Regions from separate parts of the Homo sapiens genome. Here all the other regions are linked to region 1. The links come from fine-mapping of genetic effects on gene expression. A gene starts in region 1. Each other region holds a variant in brackets. All regions are shown on one strand. Distances are from middle to middle. Region 1 holds the start of BRD1 (bromodomain containing 1). Region 2 overlaps ZBED4 (zinc finger BED-type containing 4). Region 3 overlaps BRD1 (bromodomain containing 1).

Evidence for each region. PIP is the estimated chance that this variant, and not a neighbour inherited with it, causes the effect. A credible set is the group of variants that fine-mapping cannot tell apart.
Region 2: its variant is the best candidate, but not a certain one, in a credible set for the expression of BRD1 in whole blood (TOPMed, PIP 0.68).
Region 3: its variant is the best candidate, but not a certain one, in a credible set for the expression of BRD1 in whole blood (TOPMed, PIP 0.87).

Annotation. Positions count from the first base shown.
Region 1 is chr22:49,822,787-49,833,517 of GRCh38, forward strand. It overlaps BRD1 (bromodomain containing 1), which reads right to left and starts at 5,087. Exons shown (of 13, transcript NM_001304808.3): 1 at 4,711-5,087; 2 at 165-1,545. The coding sequence starts at 1,531. It overlaps LOC105377205 (a long non-coding RNA gene), which reads right to left. Exons shown (of 5, transcript NR_188597.1): 5 at 9,663-10,731. RefSeq lists enhancers at 1,763-2,342, 3,552-3,751 and silencers at 4,252-4,421, 5,152-5,221.
Region 2 is chr22:49,858,260-49,868,990 of GRCh38, forward strand. All of the region lies in intron 1 of ZBED4 (zinc finger BED-type containing 4), which reads left to right. It also overlaps a transcript of ALG12 not described here. Among named protein-coding and RNA genes, the nearest start is that of ZBED4, 9.8 kb to the left of the region's middle. RefSeq lists an enhancer at 681-1,218. The variant C/T (reference allele first, on the strand shown) is at 4,402.
Region 3 is chr22:49,789,407-49,800,137 of GRCh38, forward strand. BRD1 (bromodomain containing 1) reads right to left here. Exons shown (of 13, transcript NM_001304808.3): 4 at 9,582-9,713; 5 at 9,152-9,280; 6 at 8,399-8,711; 7 at 4,628-4,888. Among named protein-coding and RNA genes, the nearest start is that of BRD1, 33 kb to the right of the region's middle. The variant A/T (reference allele first, on the strand shown) is at 4,320.

The sequences.
Region 1 (10,731 bases):
AAGACGTGGTAAACAAGCAGAACCACACTTCAGGGGAATATTAGGAAGCTGCGCCAACTAGAAACGCAATGACCACACAGCACGGGCCCTGCAGGCTGTGCCCACGTCCTCCCAGGGTCCCACACTGCAGGCTCCTTGTGGACTCAATGCTTGGACACGCTTACCTCTGCGGGGGAATATAAGGAGCGCACACGGTCGGCAGGACCGCGCAGGGCTCAGCCAGAGCTTTCTTAGCCTTTTTTGCCTTCTTCCTGACCTTGGATGTGGACCTGACCGTTTTAACCGAGCTCTCTTTTCGACAGACGCCATTTTTCATTTCGACATCCCCGTAAATATTCAGAGGCCTCCGGGTGCAGCCTGGAGGCGTGTGGACATCACAGTAAGCGGTCTTTCTGACGGAGAAGGTGGTGCCACCGCCAGTCAGTTCCTTCACGGGCTCCATTTTCATGTACAGGCCAGCCTTCTGGGCACACGTCACATGGAATGCTGTGTAGCAGTTTGCTTTGTGGCACTGGATGCAGGCACCCACGCCCTTCTGCTTACAGAGGTAGCATGTCAGTTTCCACCGGGCTGGAGGGATGTTCCTCACCCCATCGATGGGCTCGATGAACACCGTGTTGGCAAAGCCGACCTCTGGGATCCACAGGGCACACACCACGTGACCCCAGCGGTCGTCATCTGTCTTTTTGAAGGCACCACCCTTGTTGGGGCACAGCACACAGTCGGCGGGCCGGGCCCGCGACTGCAGGCAGTGGCGGCAGAGCCACTGGCCCTCGGGGATGTAGGGCACCCCGTAGCACTCCTGGTGCACGGCCAGGTTGCACATGTCGCAGAAGAGGATCACGTTGCTGTTCTGACACTCCCCGTCCATGCAGATGCAGCACACGGCGTCCTCGTCGATCAGAGACTGCTGCTCGCCCTGCTTCTGGTTCTCGCAGTGCGACTCCTTCTCGAAGCGGTCCATCAGGAACTCAAACATGCTCTGCGACACGGCGGGGACGCAGTCGCCCTTGCGCTTCTCATTGACGATCTCCAGCCAGGCATAGTCCTCCTCGTCCATGTCATACTCCACCTCGTTGTCCAGTTCCTCGGCCGACTTCTCGATGAACTTGTAGTACACAGGAGGCCTCCTGGGGGCGGACGGAGGGCTGTACTCCACGATGCGCACCTTGGGCTCCGGGAGGGCACTGGCCGAGGCCGGCGTGCCGTGGGCGCTGGGGAGGGCCTCGTTTTTCTTTTTGACTCTGTTGTTTTTGTGACGCTTAGTTCTTAAGCAGACAGGAGGCCGCTCGCTGTTTTCCTTGTTGCTGTTGCACTCACTCATCTCTTGAGCAGTGAGGTCATCTTCCAATATGATCTCCAGGGGATCAAAAATACTGATCCTGTGCAAGCGCCCTTCAATTTCTATCTCTACCATCCTTTGAGCTTGAGCGTAGGTCAGCGTTTCTCGCGTAGGGGAGTGTTTAACACTGCATGGGGAAGAAGGATGCCTCGCTGCAGAGCCTCGATGACATCGTCCTTTCCTCCTCATTTGGTAATGATTACCTAAAATGAAGGCAAAAGTAAAGGTAATTCTACGCAGGGTGACCAAAGACTCGAGAAAACCACAAAAGCATGCTTGGACAGATCTAGCTCAGCAGCTCAAAGCCCAATCAAAGCAAAACTCACAGCTAACCTCTTTCCAAGGTGTCCAAAACCACACATCCAGGCCTGAGCGAGTCCCCAGGACCAGGGAGGGAGCAGCAGTAACAGGCAGAGAGGCAGCCTGAGGAGCCCTCCTGAGCACCTGCGTCCCTACCACCACACACCAGTCCCCTCTCAGACCACACCAACAGGCTGCGGAGACCACAGCAACGCTCCCCAAGGAGGAGGGGTCCGGCCCAGAGCCCACAGTTGCAGGACTTTCCCAGCATGCAGGCGGTCCCCCAGGAAGTCCACATACAGGGCTGGACCCCACCAGGCACAGAGGCTATGCCCACCAGACAGGCATGCTCAGTGGCTACCTGGTCCTATCGGATGCTCCCCCTAAACCACTCTTCCCCTCCCCACTACTCCCAGGAGAGCACTCCCATGAGCCCAGAGTCACCACAGTCCTTGCAGCATTCCTGCTGGGGCCAGGGGTAGGAGACAGATCACAGCCTGTCCATCCTCTATAGACAGGCCCTCCACACGCACAACACGGCACAGGGGACCAACAGGGGAGCCCTGTACTGGTCTGAGGGGACAGTCTTGGCCCCTGGGAGGCCCCAACCCCGCTTCTGCAGAGCCTTGGCAGTGACCACCATGGAAACCACCACAGGCTGAGCCAACCTGCCCCTTCCCCTCAGGGGCACTCCTCAAGCCCCACTGAGACCATGGTGCTGGCCACGTCCTCCTCCTTCCACGTCCTCCTCCTTTCTGAGAGAATCCAGACACATGCATGACGCCAAAGGGAATCTCTGTTCTCCCCGGCACACGTGAAGGCAGACGCTCCACTCAGGCTCCACAGCGAGGGGTGACCCCCAGGAACCCCTCGCTGCTTGCAGAGACCCTCACCAGGAGGGTCGCCAGCGCTGGCTCAGGTGCCTGAAGACTTGGCCACAGAGGCTTAGGAGAATCTGCTTTTCCAGAGGTAGGCAAAACCAGTGAGCTGCCTCCCATACCTCCAGCTCCTCGTGGCAGAGGCCTCTGCTGTCCCAACACCACGGACTGCGTCTATTCCTAGCTGTCCCCAGGGTGCCTGGTGTGTGGACACCTCCTGTGAAGACCACCGCCTGCTGGGCAGTGCCTCCCTCCAAAGCGCCACACTTCACTGACAGGAAGCAAAATGATTTTTCAGTGACTGACTCGCAAAACAAATATTCTCAGCTGAAGCCCAAGGCATACTCTGCATCTAGCCCTGCCACGTCAGGGACGCCTGGCCTCGGGGCCCAGGGGGATCAGGGGCACCCACAGCAGCCTTACCCTGATCTATTGGGCCTGAGAAAAAGCCCTCAGGGAGCAGGCTTCCCTCTGTGAGTCCCGAAAGGAAATCCCAGCAGACTTCAAGAGCACTTCTTAAGACAGACCCTCCAGACACTGGGTATCTTTCTCTGTATCAGACAGAAATCCTCATTGTATGTTGAAACTAGATTGCAATTACCTACAGAAAGGAATAGGAGAGAAAATGTGGTCGGCCAAACCTCAGACCCCCTGCATCTCCAGGGCCTCCAGGTACCCACTCAACCCTGGATTCCTGGGGAGCTGTCAGCACAGCCACCCCCCAGCCGGCCCCGTGAGCCCTGCAGAGGTGACACCACAGCCTGCAGAGAGCGACCCTAGTGCACCCGGGACGCCGACACGCGTCATTACTGAGGTGGGGCAGAAGCAACAGTTGGTTACTCACCAGATCAGAAACGAACCTGTCATTTTCCCCTCGACAGCAAAGTCCTGAGTCGCCCTAACGACAAGCAGCCCCTGGAAACCCACTCTCTCCCAGGGAGCCGTGAAGCTCTTCATCGCAACACTTTCTACAAGGGGAGAACTGAACCGAAGGCTTCACGGCCACAGCAGCTCCATACCCTCAACATGCAACTGGGACCCGGGGAAAGTAGGCCCTCAGCAGGGCAGGGCGACCCACGACCTCCTCTGCTTCACCGCTTCCCCCCTGGGCCGGTTCTGTCCCTGGCCCTTCCACTGGGACAAGCATTTCCACTGGGAGGGATCCGCGGGGGCACACACGTAGCTTCTCAAGGAATAATTCCCTTAAGTACATCGAAGAGCCCTGCGGGCCACAGGCGGGGAAGGCTGCCCACAAGACGGCCGCTTCCATCTTCCCACCGCCCGCCCAGGGAGAAGCCGGCCACGCGCCGGGCCTCTCGGTCAAGGCCACAGGGGCCGCGGCCGCTGAGCTGTGCGAAGTTGTGTGCAGCACACAGCACTCGGGACGGCGCTGGGCCGGCCAAACAAAAACATCCGCCGATTCCACTAACTACACAACCACCTGGCGACAGACCCTCAAAAACAGACACGGGCGGCCGCGCTTTCTGGGGAGACGGGGCCGCACCCCGCGGGGCAGGGGGTCCCGCTGCTACGGATTCTCAGAACTCCCGCGTCCGCTCACAAGAGCCGCGTTTCCCGTGAACTGCGCCTCAATCGTGTCACTCGTTTTAAAAGGCCCGGGGAAGCCTCGCGTTCGTCGCGAGGCGTCTCCCTGCAAACGCCCGGGGAGGCCGCGGTGCCGGTTCCCAAGCCCGGCCGCCGCAGGCCGCGCGGCTCCTGGGCGATCTCGGGGCGCGTCCCTGCTCACAGGGAGTTCCCGTCTTGGCAGAGCTCGGCGGGCCTGTCTGTTACATAAGGGGCGGCCCGGCCGGCTCGGCGGCTGCCCGAGGCCCGACCCGACTCGAGCGCGGACTCCGGGCAGGCGCCCGCGGCCCAGGCCGCCGAGACCCACAGCCCGACTCGGCCTCCCTCGACTCCCCGGCCTGACCTACCCGGTCTCCCCGCCCGGCCTCCCCGTCTTCCCGCCCGTCTCCCCGGCCGCCCGGCCCGACCTCCCCGGTCTCCCCGCCCGGCCTCCCCGGCATCCCGGGCTCCCGGCCCGCAGACAATGCGGAGCCGCCGCCGCCGCCGCCGCCGCCAAACATGGCGTCGGCACCACAACCCCGAGAGGCCGGGCCGAGGCGGCGGCGGCGGCCGGGCGGCCCGCGAGGCGGCGGGGAGGCCTCCCCGGCCAGGCCCCCGCCCACTCACCTTCGGGGCGCCGCGGCCGCGGGAGCCCGGCAAGCGGGCGGGCGCGGGGGCCGGCGCGGCCGAGGCGGTGCTAATGGCGCCCGCGGCTCCTCCGCCAACGGCCGCGCAGGCCGGGCCCCGCCGCCGCTCCTGGGCGCGGGCCCCTCTCGGCCGCGGCGGCTCCGGGCCCGGCAGCGGCGGCCGCGGACTCTCGGGCAGCGGCTCGCGCGGCGCGGGCTCGGGCTCGGGGCCCAGCTGGAGGCCCGGCTCGGGGGGCCCGGCCGGCGGGCGCGGGCGCGGGCGCGGGAGCGGGCGGCGGGCGGCGGGCGCGGGACGCGGGGCTGGCTCGGACTCCAGGGCCGGGTCGCTCGCTCGCTCCCCAGCGAAGCAAACAATGCGGCGAGCGCTCCGCCCGGCGCGCTGCGTGCGAGACGCGCCCCGCCCGCCGCCGCCATGACGCGCGGACTCCGCTGCCTCGGCCGCGCGCGGGGGAGGGGGCGCCGCGAGGAGCGGGGGCCAAAGGGGGCCCTGAGGCGGCGGGGACCGGGCTGGGAGTGGGGGGTCGGGAGGATGGAGAGTGGGGGCCCTTGAGTTAGGGAGGACCGGGCCAGAAGGTCCCTGAGGGGGTCAGGAGGATGGAGAATGAGGGGCCCTGAGGCAGGGGGACGTAGGCCTAGGAGTGGGGGGCCCCGAGGCAGGTGGGGAGCAGCCGGGAGTCGGGGGCTTTGAAGCAGGGGGGTACCGGCTGGGAGTGGGGGTCCCTGAGGCAGAAGGGCATTGGCCCAGGAGTGGGGTCGCTGAGGCAGGAGATGGCCCAGGAGTGGGCGGCTCTGAGGCAGGGGCTACCACCGGCCTGGAGTGGGGGGCCCACAGGCGGGGGGACGGGCCGGGAGTGGGGGTACCTGAGGCAGAAGGACATTGGCCCGGGAGTGGGGGGCCCCGAGGCAGGATGGGGGAGCAGCCGCCAGTCGGGGGCCCTGACGGGGGAACGGCCAGGAGTGGGGGTCCCTGAGGCGGGGGGGACCAGCTGAGAGTGGGAGTCCCTGAGGCAGAAGGCCATTGGCCCAGGAATGGGGGGCCCTGAGGCAGGGGGCGATTGGCCCACGAGTTGGTGGGGGCCTGAGGCAGGGGGCGATTGGCCCACGAGTGGGGGGAGGCCTGAGGCAGGGGGCGATTGGCCCATGAGTGGGGGGCCCTGAGGCAGGAGGCTATTGGTCCGGGAGTGGAGGTCCCTAAGAGGACAGAGGGGGCCCTGCGGGGGCACTGGGTGGGAGTGGAAAGGGCACTGGCCGGGACACGCGACTAGGTAGAGGTGGGTGGTGCAGCCGGGCTGGGGAGCCTCCCCTAGTGAGTGTCAGGCCCGGTGTGCAAGTAGTCCTGCCAGTGTGAGGGCCCTGCCGAGGCCGGCGTGAAGCAGATGCCCTTTAAGGTTGCAAGAAAAGGCCCCTGCGGGTGGGAGTTGAGAGGCCTGAGTCTCTGCCTTCACTTTGGCCTTTTGTGTAAACTCTAAAATTCAGTGGGGTCATAACAATTTTCACTCCAAGATTAAATCCCAAATGTTTTAAGGTGAGGCAGGAGCTCCTTGGTTTCCTTGAGAATTTGTGATCAGGACGATGGTGCTGTGGAATCCCTGGGTTCCAGCAGCACAGCCTGTGGCATCCAGGCAGGCCCCTCAGGAAGAGCAGCTGTCCACCCTGGGACAGACCGTCCCCACGGGGGCAGCCGAGCGGCCCCACTGCTCGGGGCACTGCACCAAACACCTTATTGGGAGTGGGGTGGCCTTGTTCGCCCAAGTGTCCCTGATAGGGGCCAGGCCCCACAGGCCTTTTCCTGGCCAGTCCTCATGCCCATGGCACCCAGTGTGTGGGTTGTGACGTGACGACTCAAGGGCAGGTAGGACCCCAGCCAAGGCCCCAGTGGTCAGTCCTGATCTAGGACTCCCTGCAGACACACCCTTGAGCTTAGGGGGTACAGGCCACTGGGGCCCTGACCTCTTCTGCACCAGACCCAGGAGCTTCGTGTCACCTCCATTCTACAGATGTCTGTTTACCTGTGGCCAAACAAGCAAGCTGAGCCCGAACGCTTCTCTCCTCCACCTCAGGGAAGCCAGATGGAAACCAAGCTGGAGGTTCTCCACAACACAGAGCAAAAGTAAGACACAGTCTCATGAAAGAGAAGATGAAAAGACACGAAACCCTTCACAGAAGAGGAGACGGGGACAGTGGCCTCTCAGACAATGCAGGTGATGCTCAGAGGAGTGAAGAACAAAGCCTCGAACGTAGGCATGTCACAGGGATACTCAGGAAGGCCTTCGGAGAGGATCTTCTTTAGAATTCAGACTCATCCTACAGAGGAGGGGTTGCCAAAATACTAAGAGAATTGAACCGTAACTCATACACAGTGAAACTAGCGTTCCAGTGAGACAGCAAAATAAAGGTGTCTTCACCGCCGGTTAACATCCACATTTACCACACACGCAGTCTGTAAAAGTACTAGAAGAAATACCTTAACAAAGTGAAAAGTGGACCCAAGAGTAAGACGTGGATGCCAGCAAGTAAATCAGTCTGGTCCGTTAAAAGAAAATCAACCTGAGAGAAATCCCGGATGAACTCAACATGACACATGGTAAGGCGGGGCGCAGAAGGAAGTGAAAGTGCACGAAAGCTCTTGTATTGTTTGGTTCGAGGATTTTAGAATCGATAGAAAAAAAGGTTAAAAATTTTAGCTGGGCATGGTGGCTCACACCTGTAATCCCAGCACTTTGGGAGGCCGAGGCGGGCAGACTACCTGAGGTCGGGAGTTCAAGACCAGCCTGATCAACATGGAGAAACCCCATCTCTACTAAAAATACAAAAAAAAAAAAATTAGCCGGGCGTGGCGGCGCATGCCTGTAATCCCACTACTTGGGAGGCTGAGGCAGGAGAATTGGTTGAAACTGGGAGGTGGAGGTTACAGTGAGCTGAGATGGTGCCATTGCACTCCAGCCTGGGCAACAAGAGCAAAACTCCATCTCAAAAAAACAAAAAAAAAAAGTTTTAACTATCAGAAAGTTTCCACAAGAATGGTGGAAAAAGAATTTACCACTTTCAGAACAGCTGAGGAAAAAGCGAAATGAAAAACGACAGCAGCAACAACAAAAAAAAAACAGGAATGAGTAAAAGATAAAATCATGATAAATACAGAACATAATATGAGTTGGCAGAACTAAGTTCAAACATTTGAGTAATCAGAGGAATGTGATTGGATTAAATGCATCTATTAAAAGACAACCTCTCTGAATGGAATATAAATATGGTGAAATATTCTTACAAGAAATTCACCTGAAAAATAACAGATGAAAAATAAAACGATGGGGCCAGGCACAGTGGCTCATGCCTGTAATCCCAACACTTTGGGAGACCGAGGCAGGTGCATCACCTGAGGTCAGGAGTTCAAGACCTGACCAACATAGTGAAACCCCATCTCTACTAAAAATAGAAAAATTAGCCAGGCATGGGGGCACGTGCCTGTAATCCCAGCTACTCAGGAGGCTGAGGCAGGAGAATCACTTGAACCCAGGAGGCTGAGGTTGCAGTGAGGCAAGATTGCCCCACTGCACTCCAGCCTGAGTGACAGAGCAAGACTCCATTTCGTAAATGAAAGGATGGAAATTATCATATGTTTGTTCCTCAAAAGGCACCATAAAGAGACTGAAGAATGAAAAACTAAAAGATATGTACACCTTGCAGATGATTAGTATTTAGAATATATAGAGAACCCCTTCAGATCCATTAGAAAGAGACAAACAAGCCAACAAAATGATGCACAAAACCCAAATCAACAAAGAAACCCATGTCATAATCAGGCTTCTTGCAGAGAACATGGAAAGGCCAATCATCTTACTAGTAAATTTGGAAATGCAAACAAAATACACACCAAATAGGCACCAGCGTTCATATGTGGCAATACTCAGCGATGGCAAGATGGCAGAGCAATACCCTGCTGGCCAGAATGTCGAGTGGGACAATTATTTGGTAAATATCTTGGTCATAAGGCGTTACCCAGTGAAAGTGGACATGTTTATCAGTTACCTCTTGCTGCAAAACAAACCACCCCCAAAACTTTGTAGCTCAAAACAGCAGTCATTCCTTTTGTTCACACATCTGCTATTTGGGCAGGATTCAGCAGGTACAACTAGACTACTTCCTGCATCCTTATCTGGGGCACCTCCACTAGGGGCTGGAGGAGCCACTTCCAAGATGGTGCACTCACGTGGCTGGGACCTTGATCCAGGCTCTGGGCTGAGGGCCTTGGGAACATCCTCATGGAATAGTAGCCATGCTGCAGGAGCAAGGGTCTCAAGAGAAGCAGGTGGGACCTGTATCACTTTTCACATCCTAGCTTCTGAAGTCACACGCATCACTTCTGCCATAGGGACAAGCCTGTCCAGATTCAAGAGTTAGGGAGAATACAGACCCCACCTCTTGGGACATGTGTTATCATCACATTTTAAGAGAAGCATGCTGTATGGGAGAAGTTGTTGTGGCCACTTTGAGAAGATGCAAGCTCCCCCAGTGTGCATACCCATTCCCGGCTGTAGGGTTAAGTCAATTTGTATTCCTAGGTGCATTCCGTGCCTGGGTGTGTGCCTAAGAAACCTGTTCATCAGGGCCGGGCGCCGTGGCTCACGCCTGTAATCCCAGCAGTTTGGGAGGCTGAGGCAGGCAGATCATGAGGTCAGGAGATTGAGACCATCCTGGCTAACACGGTGAAACCCCATCTCTACTAAAAATACAAAAAATTAGCCAGGAGGCTGAGGCAGGAGAATGGTGTGAACCCAGGAGGCAGAGTTTGCAGTGAGCAGAGATTGCGCCACTGCACTCCAGCCTGGGCAACAGAGCAAGACTCCATCTAAAAAAAAAAAAAAAAAAAGAAAAGAAAAAAAGAAACTTGTTCATCAGGAAGCATGTGCATGAATGTTCAGAGCAACACTGTTTTTGGTGTTTTTTTTTTTTTATTTTAACGCTGTTTTTAATAGCAAATACTGGGAGAAATCTTAAATATCAAAGGACGGTAAAATGGACAAAGTGAGGTGTATCCACGCAATGGAATAGCACACAGCAACAGAAATGAATGAATTCCACCACCAACACGGCCAAATCTCAAACACATAATTTTAAATGGAAGAAAGAAATCTCAAAAGATTACAGAATATGATTCCATTTACACTCAGCAGACAGAGCTAGGAAATAAGTATGTACAAACACACACACACACACACACACACACACACACACACACACACACACACCCATATCTTTTCTGATACCTCTTAGCAAACCTTGAGTTCATACTGATACCTGTACCTCCAGTTACAATCTAGCATGGAGTTGATTCTACCCTCCTCTGTTTCTACATAACTATCTATGCCTTCACTTAGTAGCTCAGTCCCCCGCTACATAACCATCTCTAGGCTATACAGGACAGAAACTTGGCCCCAGACACAACCACTGCCCCCCATTTTGCACCAGCCAAAAATGCGGTTCTGGGGGCATCACTGCTCTCCAGAATGGTTATATCTGCAGGCTGAAAGCACAGCCCAAGAAAAGGCAAGGAGGAGGATGCTCATGTTGTTTCTGATATTCTGTTTCTGGCAGGAATAAGACAAAACCCTTCTTCTTTGATCTATCTCACCTTTAATTTATTTAATTTTTATTTTTACCCGGTATCTGCAACAATCTACTTTAGGAGACTATCCTTTCACAAACATTAAAACGTTCTTTAAATGGTGTTTTTCTCACTTCAGAATTCAGGAAAAATAGTTTTACTGACATTTACTTTTAATAAAAACGTAGTAATTTGCATTGTTGCAGTAGAAATTTGTCCTCCTTGTCACCAGGATATAATCAGACAAATTAATAGTGGAGCCCAGGCCTTACATGGGTGTCATATTTGAGAATAACTTTCCTGTGCTTCCACAACACGCCCACCTTTAAGGAACAAGGGTTGTGGCTTGTGTGCTGAACCAATGCCCACACAACCCTCAGACCCATACTGGCCGGG
Region 2 (10,731 bases), 35 kb after region 1:
CCATGGCTCCTGCTGGAATTTGTGGCAGTTGATGCTGCTGTGCACCCCCAGAATAGGTGAAGGCTACTCAGGTGTAGCCCCGATGGTAGTTTATGTCCTCAGGAGGAGAAACTGCCATGTCCCCGTCTGAACCAGGCCCGGAGTCTTGATGCATAGCTCTTTGCCTCCCTGGGTATACTCGACAGCTTGTTGAGAGTGCGTGTGCTCTGAGTTGAACACGAATATATTTCTGTTGTTTGAAGGTTATTATAAAGTTTCTAACTTACAGAGTTGGCACTCCTACGTCCCTTGCCCCCAGCTGGAGCTACCGTGACTGCCACCAGCTGCCACCTGGCACGTGCTGAACTGTCTTGAAGGAAACTGCAGATATCTGGACACTTCTCTAAGTGTTCTTTCTCCTAAGAAAGGGAAAGGGACATTCTACTGTCTAATGACAGTCGCGTCATCGATGGCGTCTACAAAACGTGACTGTGTCCCTTGGCGTCATCCAGTAGCCAGTCCACGGTCTGAAGTTGTCCCCCAACGTCTTTACTAGCTGTTTTTCCCAACCAGAATCGAGTACAGGGCCACGTGTCACAGTGGCTGTGAGGTCTCTTTGCGTTCCGGTGCCCCCGGAGCACCCCCTGTGATCTGGCGGTGGGAGGCCTGATTTGATACAGGGGCACGTTTGGGGCGCAGGTGATGCTGTGTGCTGCACTGTGGGCGGAGGCTGTCCCATGAGGACGGATGCGACTTTGCTCACTGGCCCTTTAAATTGTGTCCCTGCCCCCCACAGTTGGCGAGTTAGATGAGGGGGTGTCTCGGGGTGTGTGGACGCTCTGCTCCCATCAGACCTCCACATGCTGTTTGCTGGTCTCCCCAGAACCTGTGGGCAGTGGCACCTTGGCTTTAGTATGCTGTTGTTCTTTTTTTCTTTATTTTTGTCTGTGTTTCCCTTCTTTGTTACGTCTTAGAAAATGCTGAGTTCTTTCTCTTTATTACCAATTCTTAGCGGAAGATGGTCTAGTAGACACCTCTGTGGGGGCAAATTTTTACTTTTCCTTTGTCTTCCTTGAGTATCAAGGTGGACTAGTGGATTTTATTTATTCCATGTCATAATCTAGTAAAGCCTTTTGTTTTGTGATGCTCAAATAGCTATAAATGTGACTAGTTGGGAGCCCCTTCCAAGCTGGCCCCTGTGTCCTTTTCACTCCATACGTGGTCCTGGGAATGCATCCTTTCTGGCCCAGTGTCCCAGGCTCACGGTGATGTCTTTCCCAGGCCTGCGTCAGCTGCTTCTCCACAGCGCCTGGGTTCCTTTTAGTGCAGAAAGGCATCTGGACACCGAGGTCCAGGCCATAGACGTAGTCATTGTGCTTGTCTGTTATTGCTTAATGCCCTGTTCGCGGACACAGCTAGAAAATATGTATTTAAAACATTGTGAGTTCAGTCAATTTGAATTATAGTTAAAATTAATTTTAATTTTCATTAAAATTATGTAGTTTTGCGGGGTGTGGTGGCTCACACCTGTAATCTCAGCACTTTGGGAGGCTGAGGTGGGGAGACCACTTGAGCTCAGGAGTTCCAGACCAGTCTAGGCAGCGTGGCAGAACCCCATCTTTACAAAAACATACAGAAATCAGCTGGGCATGATGGTATGTGCCTGGAGTTCCAGCTACTCAGGAGGCTGAGATGGGAGGATCACTTGAGCTCAGGAGTTCCAGACCAGTCTAGGCAGCATGGCAGAACCCCATCTTTACAAAAACATACAGAAATCAGCCGGGCATGATGGTATGCGCCTGGAGTTCCAGCTACTCAGGAGGCTGAGGTGGGAGGATCACTTGAGCTCAGGAGTTCCAGACCAGTCTAGGCAGCATGGCAGAACCCCATCTTTACAAAAACATACAGAAATCAGCCGGGCATGATGGTATGTGCCTGGAGTTCCAGCTACTCAGGAGGCTGAGGTGGGAGGATCACTTGAGCCTGGGAGGTTGAGGCTGTGGTAAGCTGCAATGACGTCACTGCACTGCTGCCTGGGCGACAGAGTGAGACCCTGTATCAAAAACAAAACAAAACAAAACAAAAAATACATATATATAGTTTTACTTAATTTCTTTGATTCTTAAATTATATGTTATTCTGAAAAATCTTAATAATATCATTGGCCTTGTTTTGTGCTAAAATGTGCATACAGTAGGTTGTAGAATTACAATACCACTCCTGTAAGAAAACTGCTTAGTTAACTTTGCAGGTTTTTGTTGAGTTCTTTTTGTCCTTAGTTATCTTCCACTTTGGATGAATAAAGTGCTGTATTTTAAAGTTCCTTGACAAATACTCTTGTTTTATTTTTTATTTTATTTATTTTTCCCAAGAAAGAAATAAGACAAATATTATTTTCTCTGGTTATGTTGCCCATTTGTTTCAGATCATTTTTAGATTTAGGATTTTTTACAAATTTTATGTACAAAATAATTACCTGTTATAAAGGTCAGAACTACATAAAAGCTACCTTTCTTATCCCCACCACTCTTCTAAGCAACCTTTTTTTTTTTTTTTTTGAGACAGAGTCTTGCTCTGTTGCCCAGGCTGGAGTGCAGTGGCTCGATCTTGGCTCACTGCATCCTCGGCCTTCCGGGTTCAAGCAATTCTCCTGCCTCAGCCTCCCGAGTAGCTGGGACTACAGGCGCCCACCACCACGCCCAGCTAATTTTTTGTACTTTAGTAGAGATGGGGTTTCACTATGTTGCCCAGGCTGGTCTCGATCTGAGCTCAGGCATTCCACCCACCTCGGCCTCCCAAAGTGCTGGGATAATGGGCATGAGCCACCATGCCCGGCCTAGGCAACGCTTTTTACTTCTGCTACGTCCTGTAAAAGTAAGCAAAACACACCCACAACTCATTTCCCCTCCTGTCTTTCACAAAAGTTAGCATGGGCTGTTGACACTGTGTGTGTCTGGTTTTTCTTGTTTGTTTGTTATGAGATGGAGTCTCGCTCTGGATTCAAGTGATTCTTGTGCCTCAGCCTCCTGAGTAGCTGGGACTACAGGCACCCGCCACCACGCCCAGCTAATTTTTATATTTTTAGTAGAGATGGGGTTTCACTGTGTTGGCCAGGCTGGCCTCAAACTCTTGGCTGCAAATGATCTGCCTGCCTCAGTCTCTCAAAGTGGTGGGATTACAGATGTGAGCCACCACACCTGACCTGTTTGTTTTGAGATAGCGTCTGGCTCTGTTGCCCAGGCTGGAGTGCAGTGGCCTGATCTTGGCTTACCGCAGCCTCGACCTCACGGGCTCAAGTGATTTTCTCACTGTACCCTCCTGAGTAGCTGGGACTACAGGCGCATGCCACCATGCCAGCTGATTTTTTTCAAATTTTTTGTAGAGATGGGAGTCTCACTATGTTACCCAGGCTGGTCTTGAACTCTTGGGCTCAAACGATTTACCTGCCTTGGCCTCCCAAAGTGCTGGGATTACAGGCGTGAGCTGCCGTGGCTGGCCCCTGCGTGTCTGGTTTTTCTGCTCAGCACATGTATGAATGTGTGGGTCCTATTGACGGGCTCTGATCCTTTGCCGTGGGATGCCGCTGTGACTGACGTTGCCGTGTGTTGCATTTTTTGTGTTTCTGGTGAGGACTGTCTTCAGGTCTGTTCGTAGCGTGTGGTTGCTGGGTGGGAGGATACATGTAATTTTGGTGAGTGCTTCCAAGTTCCCCCGCACAGGCCTGCACCCTGTCAGCACTGTGGGAGAGGGCCTGACCAACAGAGGGCATTACTAAGCATTTGGATTTTTGCCAGGATGGTAGGGTGAGAAGGGGTATCTTGAACGGGTTTTCATTTAATTTGCTTCAATCTGAATGTGAAAAATGAAAAAACTGTGCTTTACTGAATTGGATGTAGCACGGAGCAGTTGAGATCATTGAATGCAAGTGGCTCATTTTGTTAGTAAGTCCCCGAGGGCGGTTGGCCCTGTGCGTGGAACCTATACGGAGCGGCCCCAACGCTTCTGCCGCAAAGTCGCTTGGAAGGTGGTTTCTCTGTCTTTCTTATTTTTTGTGCGGCGGAGGCCTTACTTTTTTGCTGAGACTGGAATTGATCTCCTGTGCTCAAGTCTCTCACCGTGGCCTGCAAGTAGCTGGGACTACGGGCGTAAGCCACTGCGCCCAGCCTAGTGTAGCTTTATAAGTGTGTTTTTAAACCTTTTTTATTTTAAAGTGTGGCACAGATACAGAAACTGAATAAAATCAGTGTCTAGCGTAATGAGTCATATGATAAGATGGACACAGTTGTAACTGGTGCTTGGGTCAAGAGGTGCTTGCCAGCTTCCAGAGCCCCTGTGCGTGCCGCCCCAGCCCCTCCCAGCAGAGGCTGCCTCAATCTTACTGTTACAGCAGCTACTTCCTTATTCTTTGTTGTTTTGACTGAA[C/T]TGAGTACCTCTAAATATTAGTTAAGTTTTTCCTTTTTTTTTTTTTTTTTTTTTTTTTTAGACTTAAGTCTTGCTCTGTCGCCCAGGCTGGAGTGCAGTGTCGTGATCTCGGCTCACTGCAACCTCTGCCTCTTGGGTTCAAGCAATTCTCCTGCCTCAGTTTCCTGAGTAACTGGGATTACAGGTGCCCACCACCACGCCTGGCTAATTTTTGTAGTTTTAGTAGAGACAGGGTTTCACCCTGTTAGTCAGGCTGGTCTCGAACTCCTGACCTTAGGTGATCCACCTGCCTCAGCCTCCCAAAATGCTGGGATTACAGGTGTGAGCCACCGCACCCGGCCAGCCTTTCAGTCTGAATCTACAGGTTACATTATCCACCCCACCTCCCGTGGAAGTATTTTCTGAGGTAACTTGGTGGTTGGACTCGTGCATCTCACGGTCTAGATTTTGCTGGCTGCATTCTTCTGGAGAGGCCCAGTGTGTTCCTCTATCCTTTGGTTTCTTGTAGATTGTGTTTGGTTGGTTGGTTGGTTGGTTGGTTTTGAGGCAGGGTCTTGCTTTGTGGCCCAGGATGGAGTGCAGTGGTGCTCCCGGGCTCAAGTGATTTTCCCACCTCAGCCTCCCTAATAACTGGGACCACAGGCACGCATCACCACACCCAGCTAAGTTTTAAAAATTTTTTTGTAGGCCGGGTGTGGTGGCTCACGCCTGTAATCCCAGCACTTTGGGAGGCCGAGGCAGGCGGATCACGAGGTCAAGAGATTGATACCATCCTGGCCAACATGGTGAAACCACGTCTCTACTAAAAATACAAAAATTAGCTGGGCGTGGTGGCGAGTGCCTGTAATCCCAGCTGCTCAGGAGGCTGAGGCAGGAGAATTGCTTGAACCGGGGAGGCGGAGGTTGCGGTGAGCTGAGATCGCGCCACCGCACTCCAGCCTGGGGACAGAGCGAGACTCCGTCTCAAAAAAAAAAAAAAAAAGTGTGATGTTCTGGCTGAGTTATTGCTTCTTTATGTAGTAGATGAACTATTAAAGATAAACCTCTTCTTATCCACTCTCTGGTGTTATAGTTCATGGAGAAAACTGAAGATAAATGCCTGATTCTTTTTTTAAATTCATCAGTTTTCACAATGATGAATCATTTTCCTATCAGCCTCCAGAGGCGACCAGTTAGGGATTTGATGTTGGTATTGGTGAACTAATGAATTTAAACATATTTGGGATGTTAAATTCTGTCCTCTTTGGACAGTGAGAGCCCCTACAAGCTGGCTCCTGGATCCTTTTGACATCATTCCTGAACTCTCTCAGAGGTTTCTGGCTGTCTGATATGTTCTGTGCTCATCTTGTATTTTTCCGGCTCCAGACCTGAAATAAGCCATTTCTTCAGCTCTGGTTTCTTTTAAGGGCTTGGAAGTTTCAAAACCACAGTCTGCATGTGACAGGTGCTCACTGCTGTTGGGTTGGCCGCTGGTTCTAGGCCTCTGCTGGAGTGTGTGATCTGCTTTCTGACGGCAGGGCGTTCACATGGGTGTGCTTTAATCTTACGTCTCCGTCCTCTTTTTCCACTGAGAGTGCTGGTCTCAAGGACAGTGGAGATGAGAGAATTGGAATATCGCATAATGTCTCATCTGTTTTATCTCTTGCTACAAACATCACAATCTCAAAATAACAATGGCAGTACAACTGCCACCTATATCATTACTGAAAACAGTGAAGATATTTTTTGCCTAAGTCTTCCCATTCTGTGTAGTTATGCAGGGTCTCAACTACAGAGTGTGTAGCCATTACGTACTACAGATGCTTCGCAACTCAGGACACGGCCACGTCCGATAAACCCATCAAAGTCGAAAATGCACTTAATACCTGATTGGAGCCTGGGCATGGTGGCTTACGCCTATAATCCCAGCACTTTGGGAGGTTGAGGTGGGAGGATCACTTGAGCCTGGGAGTTTGAGACCAGCCTCAGCAACCTAGTGAGACCCCCTCTCTACAAAAAATGTTTTAAAATATTAGCCAGGTGTGGTGACACTCAGGTGTAGTTCCAGCTACTCAGGAGGCTGAGGCGGGAGGATTGCTTGGGCCCAGGAGTTTGAGGCTACAGTGAGCTGAGATTGTGTACTGCACTCCAGCCTGAGCGCCAGAGTGAGACCCTGTCTCCAAAAAAAAAAAAAAAAAAAGCCCTGATTAAACCGTCGTAGAGCTGAAAGATTGCGAGTCAAACCATCGATGAAGTTCAGATGCTCCTTGATTGACCATGGGGTTCTATCCCAGCAAGCCCCCCCCCCCCCCCGTGAAGTCAGAAACCACGGAGTCCAGCTATTGTGCTGTGTTTCTCCCCTGCAAACCCTTATTCAGTCCTAGCTCTGCAAGTGACGGCAGCCCCGGGTCTCACTAAGGGCAGGGGTGTGTTCTGAGAAATGCGTTACTCAGCGATGTTGTCGTTGTGTGAACCTCATAGAGTGCACCTACACAAACCCAGATGGTATAACCTGTCACTCCGAGGCTGCAACTCTGCACAGCAGTTACTACACTGAAGCCTGTAGGCATTTGTAACACCGTGGCAAGTATTTGTGTGTCCAAACAGAAAAGGCACAGTAAACAGATGGTGTCGTTATCTTATGTAGCCACTGTGGGGTGCGCTGCTCTTTGCCGAGTGAGGTGTTGCTGTGCAGCACGTGACTGTGTGTGTTAAATGCTTACACGGGGGCCGGGCGCAGTGGCTCACGCCTCTAATCCCAGCACTTCGGGGGCTAAGGCGGGCGGAACTCCTGAGTTCAGGAGTTCGAGACCCGCCTGGCCAACATGGTGAAACCCCGTCTCTATTAAAATACAAAAAAAAAAAAATAATAACCCGTCTCTATTAAAATACAGGTGTGGTGGCAGGCACCTGTAATCCCAGCTACTCAGGAGGCTGAGGCAGGAGAATGGCTTAAACCCGGGAGGCAGAGGGTGCAGTGAGCAGAGATCACACCACTGCACTCCAGTCTGGGCGACAGAGTGGACAAAAATAAAAATAAATGCTCACATTGGGTCCTCATGTTTCTGTTGTGTTTTGGTTGAGGTTTGCTCTCCGGTAGATCTCTCAGGAAGGACTCATGGAACAAGATGTCTTGACTTCCTGCATCTTGATAGTAGTTTTTCTGCATTCATTGTGCTCGAAGGTCAGTTTGGCTTAGTATAAAATCCTTGGTTCACATTTTCTTTTTTTTTTTTTTCCCTTTAATTTTTTGTAGAGCTGGGGGTCTCACTATATTGCCCAGGCTGGTCTCAAACTCCCAGCTTCAAGCAGCCCTCCCGCCTCCACCTCCCGATGCTGATTATACGCGTGGGCCACTGTGCCTGGCTAGTTCACTTTTTTCCTTGAATGTCTTAACTATGTTATTCTATGGTCTTCTAGGATAAAGCATTGCTGTCAAAATCATGACAGTTTTTTCTTTCCAAGTGACTTTGTACTTTGCCTGAGAGCCCAAAGGATTTAAGTCTAGTAATTTTGTTAGAAAATAAATTAGTGTTATTAGTTGAGGATGGATTTTCTCAGTCCCTTTCACTATGTGGCTTGACAATTTCTAATTCAGGAAAGGTTTTTAAGTGTTTAGTATTCTGTTCTCTTGCCCTGTCCCCTCCTGTTTCTGGGGTGGCTGTTCTGATTGTACATATGTTGGATCTTCTTTACGTGTCTTTTAAATTGGTCCGTTTCTCTTGAGTCTTTTTTAATCCCCTCATTTCTTTTTCATTAAAAAAAATTGTGTTTCCCTTTCATTTATCTTAAGCTGTCATCTGTGGAGTTTGTTCTCCTGTTTCTTCTTTTTTAGGTCTTCATTCTTGAAGTCATATTTTACTTTTATTTTTAGTGTTTTTGTGGGACCTATAATCTCACATCAGAATTTTTCTATCCTGATTTATGTTGTTTCTTTATATCATTTTCTTAATTTCTTTAGTTTCTTTGCAAGAGGAAGTTACCGTTTTCATTTAATCTGAGGTCACATTTTTCTGTGAGCATATTTCGTTATCTGCAGTGATGTTTTTCTGCTCTTTAGTTTTTCTCATACCCTTCTGTGAGATGTGACAGAATTCTTTTCTGTTGCCTATTATATTAGTTTTCTAGTGCTGCTTTAACAAATTACCACAAACCGAGTGGCTTCACACAAACGGAAATTAGGAATCTGAAATCTGAGATGGGTCTCACTGGGCTAAATCAAGATGCTGGCGGCTCTTGAACGGTGGCTCTCGGCAAATGCACGTTCTTACCTCTTGCGCCTTCAGGAGGTCACCTGCCTTCCTTGGCTTGCATTGGTTTGGTTTGCTGTTTTTTCTAGTGTTTTCTTTTAGGTGAGTACTTTATTGACTGGAGGTCATCTTTTCTAACACAGGTATGTAGAGCTTTCAGTTTCTTGCTAACCACCACTTCAGCTGCATCTCATCCATTTGGTGGGTTGTATTTTTATTGTCGTTCAGTTGAAAACACTTTCCAGTTTACCTCACGGTTTGTTTTTCACCCGTGAGTTATTTAGAATTGTATTTTGTTTTCAAATAATTGCTTATTTCCCAGATTTCTTTCTTTTGCTTTATAATTTAACTCCATTGTGTTTAGAGGACTTGTATAGTTTCAGTCCTTTTGAAATGCCCAACGCGTATGTTATGGGCCAGCATGTGGTCTATACTGTGGGAGGTTCCCTGGGCCCCTGAAGAAGCGTGTGCCAGGCGGCGGTGGGAGCGGCGGTTGGGGAGGCACTGCGGTGCATCCACTGGGTCAGTTGGCTGACGGTATTGCTCAAGTCTTCTCTGTTCTCGCTGACTTTCTGTCTAGTTCTGGGTGGCCTGGTAGGCCCAGCAGCTTCTCTTCATGGGAGTTTTTGCCCCAGAAAGAAGTGTCAGCTGTTTTGTTTTGCCCCAGATCGGACCTTGGACCCTGACCCTCCTCTGCTTTGCAGATGTGCAGAAAGTCACCCACCTCAGCAGCTTGGTTCTGTGGGCCGTCCAGTGATACCTGTTGGCTACTTGGGGATGCTCGGTGTATCACACGCTTGATGACATCTTTCTTTTCCAGCTGCCAGATCTAATACCATCTAGGCCTTGTAATACTGACTGCAAGGGGGCTTCCATCCTGATACACCCATCCATCATCAATTAAAAATATCTTCAGTGGAAAATGCATTTAATTCACCTGATGTGCCGAGCATCATAGCTTAGTCCAGCCCCCCTCAAATGTGCTCAGACACTTACATGAGCCCACAGTTGGGCAGAATCACCTGACACAAAGCCTGTTTTGTCATAAAGTGTTGAATATCTCATGTAAGAGTGTCACACCGTATGTTGTTAGCCTAGGAAAAGATCAACATTCAGAATTCAAAGTACAGTTTGTACTGAATGCCAGTGGCTTTCACACCATCGTAAAGTTGCAGGTTCGTAGGTTGAACCGTCATTAAATCAGGGACCCACTTACCCATATTCATGGTTTGTCCCTTCCACTTACATTTGTTGGTTAACGGAAAGACCTTGTCAGTCTTCTTTTTTGTTGTTGTTGATAACATCAGAGGATTGTGGTTTTACTGTTCTAGTTTTCCTTTTATTGAGAGATTTGGGGAAACTAAAAAATAAAATATAGGCAGTGTTACAAGCAAACAAATGAGCTTACTATATTTCAAATGAATAAAATAACTACACTTGAGGAAGGAAGCTGGCTGAGGCTGGTGGATCACCCAGGATCAGGAGTTCGACACCAGCCTGGGCAACATGGTGAAACCCCATCTCCACAAAAAATGCAAAAAATTAACTGGGTGGTGGCACACACCTGTCATCCCAGCTACTGAGGAGGCTGAGGTGGGAGGATTACTTGAGCTCATGAGGCGGAGGTTGCAGTGAGCCAAGATTGTGCCACTGCACTCTAGCCTGGGCAACAGAGCGAGACTGTCTCTTCCAACAAAAAAGAAAAATGAAAACTGACCCAAGAAACTCTTGGACACGATGTGATTATAAACCTCCAAGTAAAAAGATAAAAATTATAAATGAATTGTGATCTCCAGCTAGAAGGCTTGTTTTCTTGGTGGCCTGGGTTAGTAATTCTGCAGCTACTTCGTGCATGTGTTGTAGGGTTGAGCAAATGAGGAAATCTGCCAGGAGGGTGGGAGCCCAGCCTCCCAGAGGTGGATTGAAACGTCACGGATGCAGGCCGGGCGCAATGGCTCACACCTGTAATCCCAGCACTTTGGGAGGCCAAGGCAGGCGGATCACCTGAGATTGGGAGTTTGAGACCAGCCTGACCAACATGGAGAAACTCTGTCTCTACTAAAAATACAAAAAAAAAAAAAAAAATTAGCTGGGTGTGATG
Region 3 (10,731 bases), 33 kb before region 1:
GCAGCGTCCTGACGCAGCTGGTGTCTGGGGCACAGGGCCTGGGGCCTCACTTCACTTCCTGCCTCCTCTTCCACCTCCTAGCCTCCCCCCCCCGCCCCGAGCTCTCGCCCTGATTACGACATTCAACTGCTCACTGCAATCCCAATGGCCTCTGCAGGGCCAAGGCCAGTGGTCAACCCCAGTCTTGGCCTCTATGGGTGCAACAGCACCCGGCCAGCAGAGATGGAGCCTGAAGGAGTCTCCTCCCAGCACCTCCGGGAGACCCCCCTTCCCCCAACCACCTACAGCCCACCTTCTCCACAGCTATCTAACGGGCACCGTAAACCCCCATCTCCTGCTTCTGGTGCAACCCTCAGAACCACCACTCCTGTCTGGCAGGAGCCCTGAGACGTGCAGACGTCCCTGCCTTGCAGCAGGCCCTCCCCAACCATGGTCCACAACCCCTCCTCCACACCTCCAGCTCTCGGCCCAGCTAGGATGCCCCATGTGGGACTCATAACCATCTCCACGCTGCAGGGACTTCCCTAACCCCTGGTCTATCCCAAAGCGGGCCCCTGTGGCCCTGTCTCAGCCATGCATGCACCCCACACGCCCCTGGCCTCTCTGCGGCAGCTCCACATGCAGGCCGGGCTCCAGCCGCCAGCACGCAGGCTAAAGGATGCGTTCCTGCAGCACTGACCAGAGGCACAAAGGAGGCCGTGGTCAGGAACAGAGGTCGCTGTCGTCTGGGTGCTCAGCCACCTGCCCAGCCGGGACCACACAGGCCCCTCCCCCAGCCGGGACCACAGAGGCCCCCGGACCGTTCAGTGCCTCAGTTCCTCATCCATAAAATCAGAAAAAAACAGGACCTGAGCCTCCAGGCTCCACGACACAACAGGCAAGCCCAACCCGTCCCTCGAGTGGAAATGTGACTGGAAGTTGACATACAAGAAGGAAGACTCCTCTCAAAGCTCACTGACTCTGGGCCATCTCAGGCTGTCACTGAACTGCACATGGGAAAAGCTCAGAACATGCTCGATACAACTCGGGCATAAGCCTCTCAGACCCCGTCAATGTATCAGTCAGGATCCTAGAATTCCAGTCCCTGGAACTTGTCACATATTCCAAATGGCAAAATGGTTATCTAATCCAAACCAGCTACTCTAAGAAACTAAAACCTAGTTAAGTCTGCAAGAACAATTCCGCAATATTTTGCCCACCTGGCCACCTGCTATGTCAATCAAAGGTTTCTGTATCGAAGCCACAAGACGCTTTGGAAAATCACAGCGTAACACAGGCAGACATTTCAGCTCACGAGCAGCAACCACACTGTCCCTCCAACAACCCTGCCTCAAGCCTCCGTCCTCTGCAATCCTGAAGGGACAAAGCTGCGTACTCCGCACCTTCTACCCCGAGGAACATGCATCCTTCCTTTCCTGAGGGCCACAGTTCTCCACGTGCTCAGCGCCCGTGCACGGCAGGGGGACTTCCACACGTGCACTTCAAGGGACCACAGCTGCCCTGGACTAAAGGGGACGCCCCGGAGCCTCTGGCAAGGGCATCACTGTGACTGGAAATCCCAAGGACTCGAAATGCAAGCCCCTTTCACCAGCTCACGGTGCGGACCCTGCTCCTCCTGACTGCACTGACCTGCCTCACCATGTCAGCAGACACCAACCTCAGCACAGGGTGGAGACAAGCCCTCTGCCAGCTGCAGATCCGTCCCACAGGCTCATCAGACAGGCTGGAATCCCAGCTGTGGCGTGGCCCCCACCCAGCTGACACGCAGCCCCGGGGAAGTCAGCCCTGGCAGGGCCAGCTCACAGCAACAGCCCGAACCTCTGCACTCGGCAGACTGAGTCGCGGCTACGGCAGAGCCTGCGGGAGGGCCTGTACAAGGGGCAGACCGGGGCCAACAGTGCAGCCCAGGAGGCATCTCCTTCCTTCAGACACTAAAGTCTCAGGGGCCTGGCACTCAACGGCTACAGCCTTGTTCAAGCTGCTTCAAGTGGAAGCAAAATATAAACACAACACACAGACTGTTAAATTACAGTTTAAGTGAGACTGTGTATTTGCCATTGAGGAATTACTCTTTTCAGGTGTGAAAATATTGTGGTTATATTTAAGAAAAATGATGGAGAGGCTTTACTGATGAGAACGTTCATGCTGGGTTTTTAAATGTCTGATTCTTGGTTTTCATCCTATTATAAGTATCGTAAGTCACATTTCTATACCAACCAACAAGCTTGCTTGTGGCTGTCTTCCCTAATGACTTCCCCATTCCAGTCTGGCACTCGCCTCTCCACAGACCCCCATCTTCTCTGAGGGGCAGGACCCCGCCCGCCCCACCTCTCCAGAGACCCCCAACTTCTCTGAGGGGCAGGACCCCACCCGCCTCACCTCGGAGTGGACTTTCAGGCCACTTGCTTCTCCACCCACCTTCCCATCAGCTCACAGGAAACGCCCTTTTCATCAATTGAGTCATTGTGAACATTGGGTGTAACAGGTGATTCGAGGCCACCTGTGTCTCAGTCACATTGTGTTTTCCTTACAATGGCCCCAGAAAAAAAATAAAAATAAAATGATTCCAGAGCTACAAAGCAACAAAAATGGTCTCCAAAGGCTCCTGCTAAGCGTTGGGTGTTATGAGGAGCCACGCTCACCACAGCGGAGGGCCAAGCAGCTCCAACCATGCGAGGTCCTCAACCATGCGAGGTCCTCAGTCCTGTGACCCAATAACCGTGCGGGGTCCTCAGCCCTGTGACCCAATGGCAATGGAGGAAGCCACTGATAAAAAAAAAAAGCTAAAAAGGTAACTTACTGCTCTACAGTGAAAATGGTACAACTGTGTGCGAAGAGAAGCGCTGGAAGCTATTTTGAGAATGGTGAGTGGACCTGCTGGCAACCTCCTCACAGCTCAGTCCTCAGGGCACAGAAGACAAGGACAGAAGGGCAGTCCACCTAGAGGGAGGCCCACACAGCCAGAGGATGCCTCGGTGGGCTGCACGGAAGCAAAGGCTGCGGGACCAGGCACCAGCCTGGACTCCTGGGCACAATGGGGCGGCCCAGGGCCCGGACAGGTATGGCTGCCAGAGGGTCCTGTAGGCAAACGTTCCTCAGAAAAAACACGAGGCCCCCAAAGCAGAGGAGGGATCACGTGCCAACAATAACAGCCTTTGGGAGAAGAGAAAACCAAGCGCTCACCTTGAAATAGAAAAGCCTTTATTCTATGGACCTAACGTAATTGACGCCAGCCCCAAAAGAGACATTCTAGAGTCTGGGTACTATACTATGGTGAACTAAACAGAAGAATCCCAGAACAGAACAACAAACAGGCACAAAATGAGCAAAAGGATGCATAAGAAATTCTCAGCTGTGTGCACAGGAGTAAGTTTCTAAGAGAAAGAAAAGCTTAATGGCTCTCATTCAAGTTGCCCAAATGTAAAACAGGATAAAAGGGGCGAAGCTCTGCAGACAGGAGCCACAAGAAGTTCAGGGGATGAAAAGGGCCCTGAGACCATGGGGACCCGCTGACCTGTGTGGCATCATGAAGACACTGCGTCACTCCGAGCACAGACGTCCATAAGAGATGAACGTCTTTGTTTTAAAAGAAAATTGTACAACAATTCTGTGTCTTATTTCAACTGTCTGCTGTTCTGACTTGGATGTGCAGGGGAAGGGCAAGAAGGCTGAGAACCAGCTGCCAATGTTGTGGCAAGAGGGTCTGACCCTACTGTCTGCTTCGTGTAACCGGAGCGTGTCAAGGTCAACTGCAGAGACACACGGCAAAACACAGTGGCAATGACTTTCTATCAACGTCTCCAAATCCGATTTAGTTTTAAAATTCCTCTTTCACCAAATATGGGACACACCAGCTCTACTTCCTCACCCTGCCAACCTAGATGTACACAGACCATCGCTCGTAAACTCCCTCCTCACCATGCCAAGCCTGCATTTGCCCTGGGTTTTGCTAGTTCTCCTTCTAGATAGGCGGATTTCTTCTCCTACATTTATTTCTTAGTCATAAAAACATCTTTGCTGCCTGGACCTTTCCCCAGACATTCTTTGGCAACGATCACGGCTGCTACCTACCAACTCTGCAGAGGAGCTGGCCGGGGACCCTCGGGGCAGACAAGGCCTCTGCAGGTACCGTCCCTCCCTTCACAACATCAGGGAGGAGTGTTTAAGTGCCAATAATCTAAAACAGCCCTTTCAAAATGCTGCATTTGATGGCCTAGCGCACAATTAAATGGCTCCCCGCCAATTTACAAAATGCAACAAAAACATTTCTCACTCTCATCATTCAGGCTACCTTTACTCTTCAACACAGTGTAAGATCT[A/T]AACCATTCTTTTCAAATAGTTTCTCAGGCCCAAGTTAAAGAGAAAAATTTTATTCTGTGCCTTAAATTTTATCAACTGATTATGTGAGAAAACACAGACAGCACAAATGATAACGTCTCCTTAAAAGGAAACAACAGCCCAGTGGGAAAATCAAGTGTTCCGGGATTTGTGAATTTTACGGAACTGGCGCTAACCTGAGCCTCCGTGCACACCAACGCTGCTGCCCGTGTCTGGGTCTGTGCCTGTGCCTGTGCCTGAGCCTGAGCCGTGACGGCAAGAAAGCGGGGCAGCCCTCACCGTGGCTTACCTTCCTCGCCCGCCTCCGGCCCCAGCGCAGCTCCGTCCTCTTCGAAGCCTTCCAAGCCTGGCCCCGTGGGCAGGGGCTGGCTGTGCTGCTGGCTCAGCTTGTTTCGGAGAAGGGCAATTTCCTTTTTGAGCAGCTTTGCCCGCTTGCTCCGGGAGCCGCTGGACTTCATAGCGCAGGTGAGGTCGAGCATGTCCAGCAGCTCTCTCAGCTGCTCCTCCAGGCCCAGGTGGGCTCTGTTGGCGGGGTCCAGCAACCTGTCCACTGAACCAAAGGACACATGCTGTCAGTCATCAGGTCCCACGCACCTTCTGGGAACACATCACCGGTCCCGTCTTTCAAATCACCTTCGGCCAAGGCCCTGAGAGTGGCTGTTAGCAACGAGGCCCAGGCCCTGCTCACCAGAGGCCCCTCCCCTGCACTCTGAACCCACGAGTAGCTGCTGCTACAGGAACACACTGGGATGCTCCTGATGGAGAATTTCTACTCCCATGACACTGTCAGCACAGAAGGGGCAGCGTCCAGGTAAGATCGCAACCTCTCCTGGACCAGGACCCACTGAGGCTGCCTGTGCAGACAGCCTGGCTGCCTGGGTGAGGGCACAGCACACAGACCCCAGAGAGAGGCGCACGCTCCACCAACCCAGCACAACTCAGCTGGACCTGCGCTGGCTCTGCAAACAGAGGTGACGACTGGCAAATGTGTTAAGTTAGGGCCATTGCACGTCCTAAGTGGTGTCTTAGCTGAAGTCTTCAGATGCTGATCATTGTGTGGCTTTAGTAAACGGGTTGTAAAATTCACAGATCATTCTGAATTTCAGACGTATTTACTACAAAGTCCCTAGAAACTTCGCTTTCAAAAACACCAAAATTTATAAAGCACAAATTACCTTAAATAAGTAAGAGATGGCCAAGAAAAGAAACTGCTCCTCAGAGCTATCTGAAGATAAAACCAGAGCAAGAAGGAGAGAGAAGACAAAAAAAAAAGTAAGACTGCCCAAAAACACATGAACTCTCTTCATCTAGAAACAGGTGTTTTACTGAAAGCATCTGTCTCTTTGGCTGAATAAATAAAGTAGTAGAGAGAAACAAATCAGTCCTTCAAGACTCGTATCCATAACATCACTCTGAACAAATGTCATAGATAATACTCAAAAATGTTCATACAAAAAAACATATCCTTTGAAACCCCAAGAAGAAAGCCTCGAAACGTCTGTTTCTTTCAAAACAGAGACCCACGGCCTCCAGGTCTGTGGCTCAGGCTCCAGGCAATGGGAGGTGTCGGCCGTGCTGAGAAGAGCAGCAGGTGCACCCTCAAGGCACACCATGGCCACTGGCTCACCTGTGCACTCCCAAATACTGAGAAAGAAAGAAACCAGGACTTCTCATCCTTCATTTTCTCCTTAGCAAAAAAACCCGGGTGTAGAAATTCACTTAACAACTTGCATGACCATGATCTGAAAGGCGCTGACACTCAGAGGCCTCCACACCTGCTCTGTTCGAGGGAGGTGGCATGGTGCTGGGAGCATGATGTGGGGGAGCACAGGAGCAGGGCCCTAGGGGCAAAGGAGGCTCCGGGCTGCTAAGAAGACAGGGAGTCCAAGAGTGATGCATCTTCCTGCTTTGAAGGGCAGGCAACCAGCGTACGTCCTGAGCAGCCAGCAGCGGGCACCAGGTGGGCGTCTGAGAGCTGATGGCAGGCAAGGCATCCAAGCCAGAGCGTGATGGCTGTGGGAGGCGGGGGAAGCTTTCCCACGGTCACCAGAGGCTAGAGAAGGACCTTCCAGGACAAGCATGAGCCCATGGAGCCCTGGGCTCACTCTGAGGCGGCTCAGCCCTGGCTCCTCTCAGGTCCCCAAGGGAATGTTTCGGAAAAGGATAGCTGGTCTGATCAGCCTGGAGAGCGCAGCTTCAGAGAGGGGTTAAAGCTCCACCCGGGTTCACCAAGAGCCAGCAGCACTGTTTGGAGCCTGTGTTTATTTTCTAAATTTCTCCAAGAAAAACGTGTTACTCTTAAAATCAGAAAATCAGAGACAAAGAATAAAAATATATTTCCATTGTGTTTTCTTTTTTTTTTTTTTGAGACAGTCTTGCTCTGTCGCCCAGGCTGGAGTGTAGTGGCGTAATCTCGGCTCACTGAGAGCACCGCCTCCCGGATTCACGCCATTCTCCTGCCTCAGCCTCCCGAGTAGCTAGGACTACAGGTGCCCGCCACCATGCCTGGCTAATTTTGTTTTTGTATTTTTAGTACAGACAGGGTTTCACCACATTAGCCAGGATGGTCTCGACCTCCTGACTTCGTGATCCACCCGCCTCGGCCTCTCTCTTTTTTCTTTTTTTTTTTGGAGATAGGGTCTCACTCTGTCACCCAGGCTTCAGTGCAATGGCACAATCTCCGCTCACTGCAGCCTCCACCTCCCAGGTTCAAGCGATTCTCCTGCCTCAGCCTCCGAAATAGCTGGGATTACAGGCATGCGCCACCATGCCCGGCTAATTTTTTGTGTTTGCAGTAGAAACGGGGTTTCTGCATGTTGGCCAGGCCGGTCTCAATCTCCCGACCTCAAGTGATCCACCCGCCTCGGTATCCCAAAGTGCTGGGATTACAGGCATGAGCCACAGAACCTGGCCCTATCCCCAGTCTTTAAAAGAGTACAGCCCATCCTCCAATCCTCACAGGTGCCGAGTGCTGCGGGACCCCACGGGAAGCAGGGAGCCCAGCACTGCTGCCATGAGGGGAACAGAGGGCGAAGCAACGATGGCCCAGCTTGGTTGAATCCCATGATGGCGGGAAGCGGACCCCACGATGGCGGGAACGTGGACCCCGCGATGGCGGGAACGTGGAAGAGAGGAAGAGGGCCAGGCCTCATCCCAGAAGAAGCGACCTAGCACGGGTCAGTGATTCATCAAGAGAAAGGGTAGGCCAAGAAATCAGGGATATGGGACCTTTAGACAAATAAGCCAAACACACCGTGATTTCTGCTCAGTTTGTGGCTCAGAGCTGGAGCTGAGGTGCTGGAGCTCTATGTGCTTTGACAACCCATGTGGGCAGGACACACCCTTCGACAGACAATCCCAGAGGTGCGACTAACAAGCAGGGTGCAGGGGACAGCCCCGGTTTCCGAGGACCAGTCTAGAGAAGGGTGCAGGTGACTACACATGGCTGCAACACGTGCCTGGGCAACCAAGAAGCACAAGCCCAGGCTGGAGTCCAGGTGGGCCGTGGACACACTCCCAGAGCCCTTTCTACAACATGCGCAAACCACGAAGTTAAAGGGCTGGAGGCAAAGCCAGAGATCCTCCGGCTTCACGCCACCCTCAGAAGTTAGCCGAGGCCCACTCTGGATGAAAACCCCCAACTAAGCTGCTTTCTGGGTCTGCATCGTCGAGACCGGCCACCCCATAGGGAGCCACAGCCACACAGTCCTCTTGGTGGGCACCCAAAACGCAGCCAGTCTGAAGTGACAGGTGCTGAGCGTAAAATACACATCAGATGGCAAAGAAGGTGAAAAGCTTATATATCCTCAGTAACGTTTACCGATCCCATGTTGAAATCAACTCTTCCATACACTGAGTAAAATAAGACATATTATTAAAGTAAATTCCACCTGCTTCTTTTCCATTTTTCAGTGAGGCTACTAGAAAATGTAAATGATGTATGCGGTTGCATGCTAGTGGCTCCCGGACCATGCTGATAGGGAGCTGGCAACACAGAGCAGGACAGAGTCTGCTAGAAAGAGCGTCTTCCACCTCCTCCGGACACGGCGCCAGTTCTTACCGTCTTCCCAGGAGAAAGGCCGCCGCGGTGCCGCAGCAGGCCGCTCAGGCAGGTGCATCCCCGAGGCCTCTTCCAAGCCGATGCTGTCCACCTCGCGCCGGGCCTGCCTCAGAACAACACCTCCCTGATCGCGCAGCCTCACCGCGGCTCTATAGAACACGGTGTCCCTGGCATTGTACTTCATGCAGTTATCTATAATGAGATCAAAATCCTCCTCAAACTCATGGAGGTTTTTATACCCTTGAGCTTCTAACCGTTTCCTCATTGTGGCAAAGTCCATGGGATGTTTAATGTGATCCAAATAATCTGGTACCTAATTTTAGGGAGGAAAAAGAATCATTTACAAACTAAAACAGGATATTAGTTGACTCTATATTTATTATTCCATATAACCCACAAGCCCATCCTATCTGAGAGCCACACACAGACACGCAGACGGTACAGACATAAGACCCAAGTACTGCAGGGACCTTCCCGACCCCAGCTCCTTCAGCTAAAGCACGCTGGAGGGTGCCGGGCGGATGCTGCCACAGCCCAGGGTACTGTCTGCACAGGGCCTCTTGCCCACTGCACTTTCAGTATTTTACAATGAAATGTATCACTTTTATAATTTAAAAACAAATACGTTAAATAAAAACGAGAATTAAGAACACAAGGGATGTACTCTAGCCAATCACACGTTTCCCGGTCAAACGGCAGCACAAATCCACAGTCACACATGCGGCAGGACAGACGAGCGCCGCAAACACCCACCTCCTTCAGACTCACGGGCTGCGCAAATATCCTGGCGGGGTCCTTGTCTTGCAGCTGGTCCAGCACTGAGCGCAGCAGCACCGTCAGCGGGGTCAGCCGCAGCTCCATGGCGACCTGCTCCACCTTCACCTGGGGGGGCCCAGCAGAGCCTCAGCTTTAGGGAGCCGCACATGCGTCTCAGCCCCACCACGCGCCCCACAGCCACAAGCAGCCCCCACAGGCTCCTGTGCTTCCGTCCAGGCATAGGACAACGCAGCCTCCACTTAGGGCTCTGCAACCCATGGCAGCCAGGCACCCAGCCTGGGCTGAGCAAGGCACTGCTGTGGGCCAGGACCCACCGGGTGCAGCCCACCCTCTGCAGGAGCTGCCAGCGTCCCACCCACGCCCCGTGGCCAGTGGTGCACTCCACGCGGGACAGGCCCAGCCCCACCTGCTCACGCTTGAGCTTCTCCCGCTTGCGCAGCAGCTCGATCAGCAGGCGAGCGCGCTCCAGGTCGTGCCGCAGCCGCTGCCAGTACTTCAGCTTCTCTTTGGCAGCCTTCATCTCCTCATCATTTTCTCTCTGAGAACAGTGAACACTTCCGTCAGTCAAACCCAGAGGCTCCTTCTGCAAAAGGCCTCAGATACCATGCAGGTGAGACCCCAAGAGGCATCCACGTCAGGGGTCCTGCAGGCCCATCCTGGGGAGGACAACAGACCACCCTCACTAGAGAGCCCCAGGACAGCACCGGGACAGAGGGGACAGAGGAGACAGAGGGGATGGAGGGGACAGAGGGGACCGCCAGGCCAAGGTGAGCAGGGGGCTGGCCCCGGTGCACAGGTTCCACCCTCCAGAGAGGACAGAGGCCTCCGCAAGCTGGCGGCGGGGGGGGCCTTCACAGAACCAGAAAGGCCCACAAAGGCGGGGCCAGGACAGAATGGGGGACCCTTGAGGACCCACCTCCAGGACAGCTGGGAATGGAGGGAGCGGCTGGAAAGAAACCAGGTGCACAGAAAACCACATGCTGGGCCCATCCTGGCTTGGACAGAGCATGACGGGGGCCTGGCACACAGCCGACCTGCTGCCCTGCCCTGCACAGCGCCTCCATCCCGACACACGTTTCCCCACAGCCAGGGTCCCATTTCCATTGATAGCACCTGCTCCCTTCTCAGTGGACAGAAGAGTGCGCCAGACAGCACAGGCCGCCAGCCTCAACCCAGCCAACATCCACACCAGGGTGATCAGAAGAAAATCAGAGCCCTGCAAAGGCCATGACACAGATGGTCGCAGGAGAGTAGGCCACCTGGGTCTGCCCTCAGCCCTGTCCTCACCATGTCCCCCAGGCCTGGCCGCATGAGGCCTGCTCGTCACAGTGCCGGGGCACCCTGACCCTACCTCAAAGGGGAGAGGAAGTCAACGAGGGAGTTGGCCTGAGTGGGCCCCCAACACCTGTCATCCTCCACAGCTGCAGGACACGCGCGCCCTGCCAGCCTCAGGACAGCCGTGGCCATCAGTTTCTGGCACATGCTTCACAGCCCTGAGACCCTCCTCTCCCCCAACGCCTCTGTCCCCGGGTTCCCACCTGCCCACCTCAGGGTAC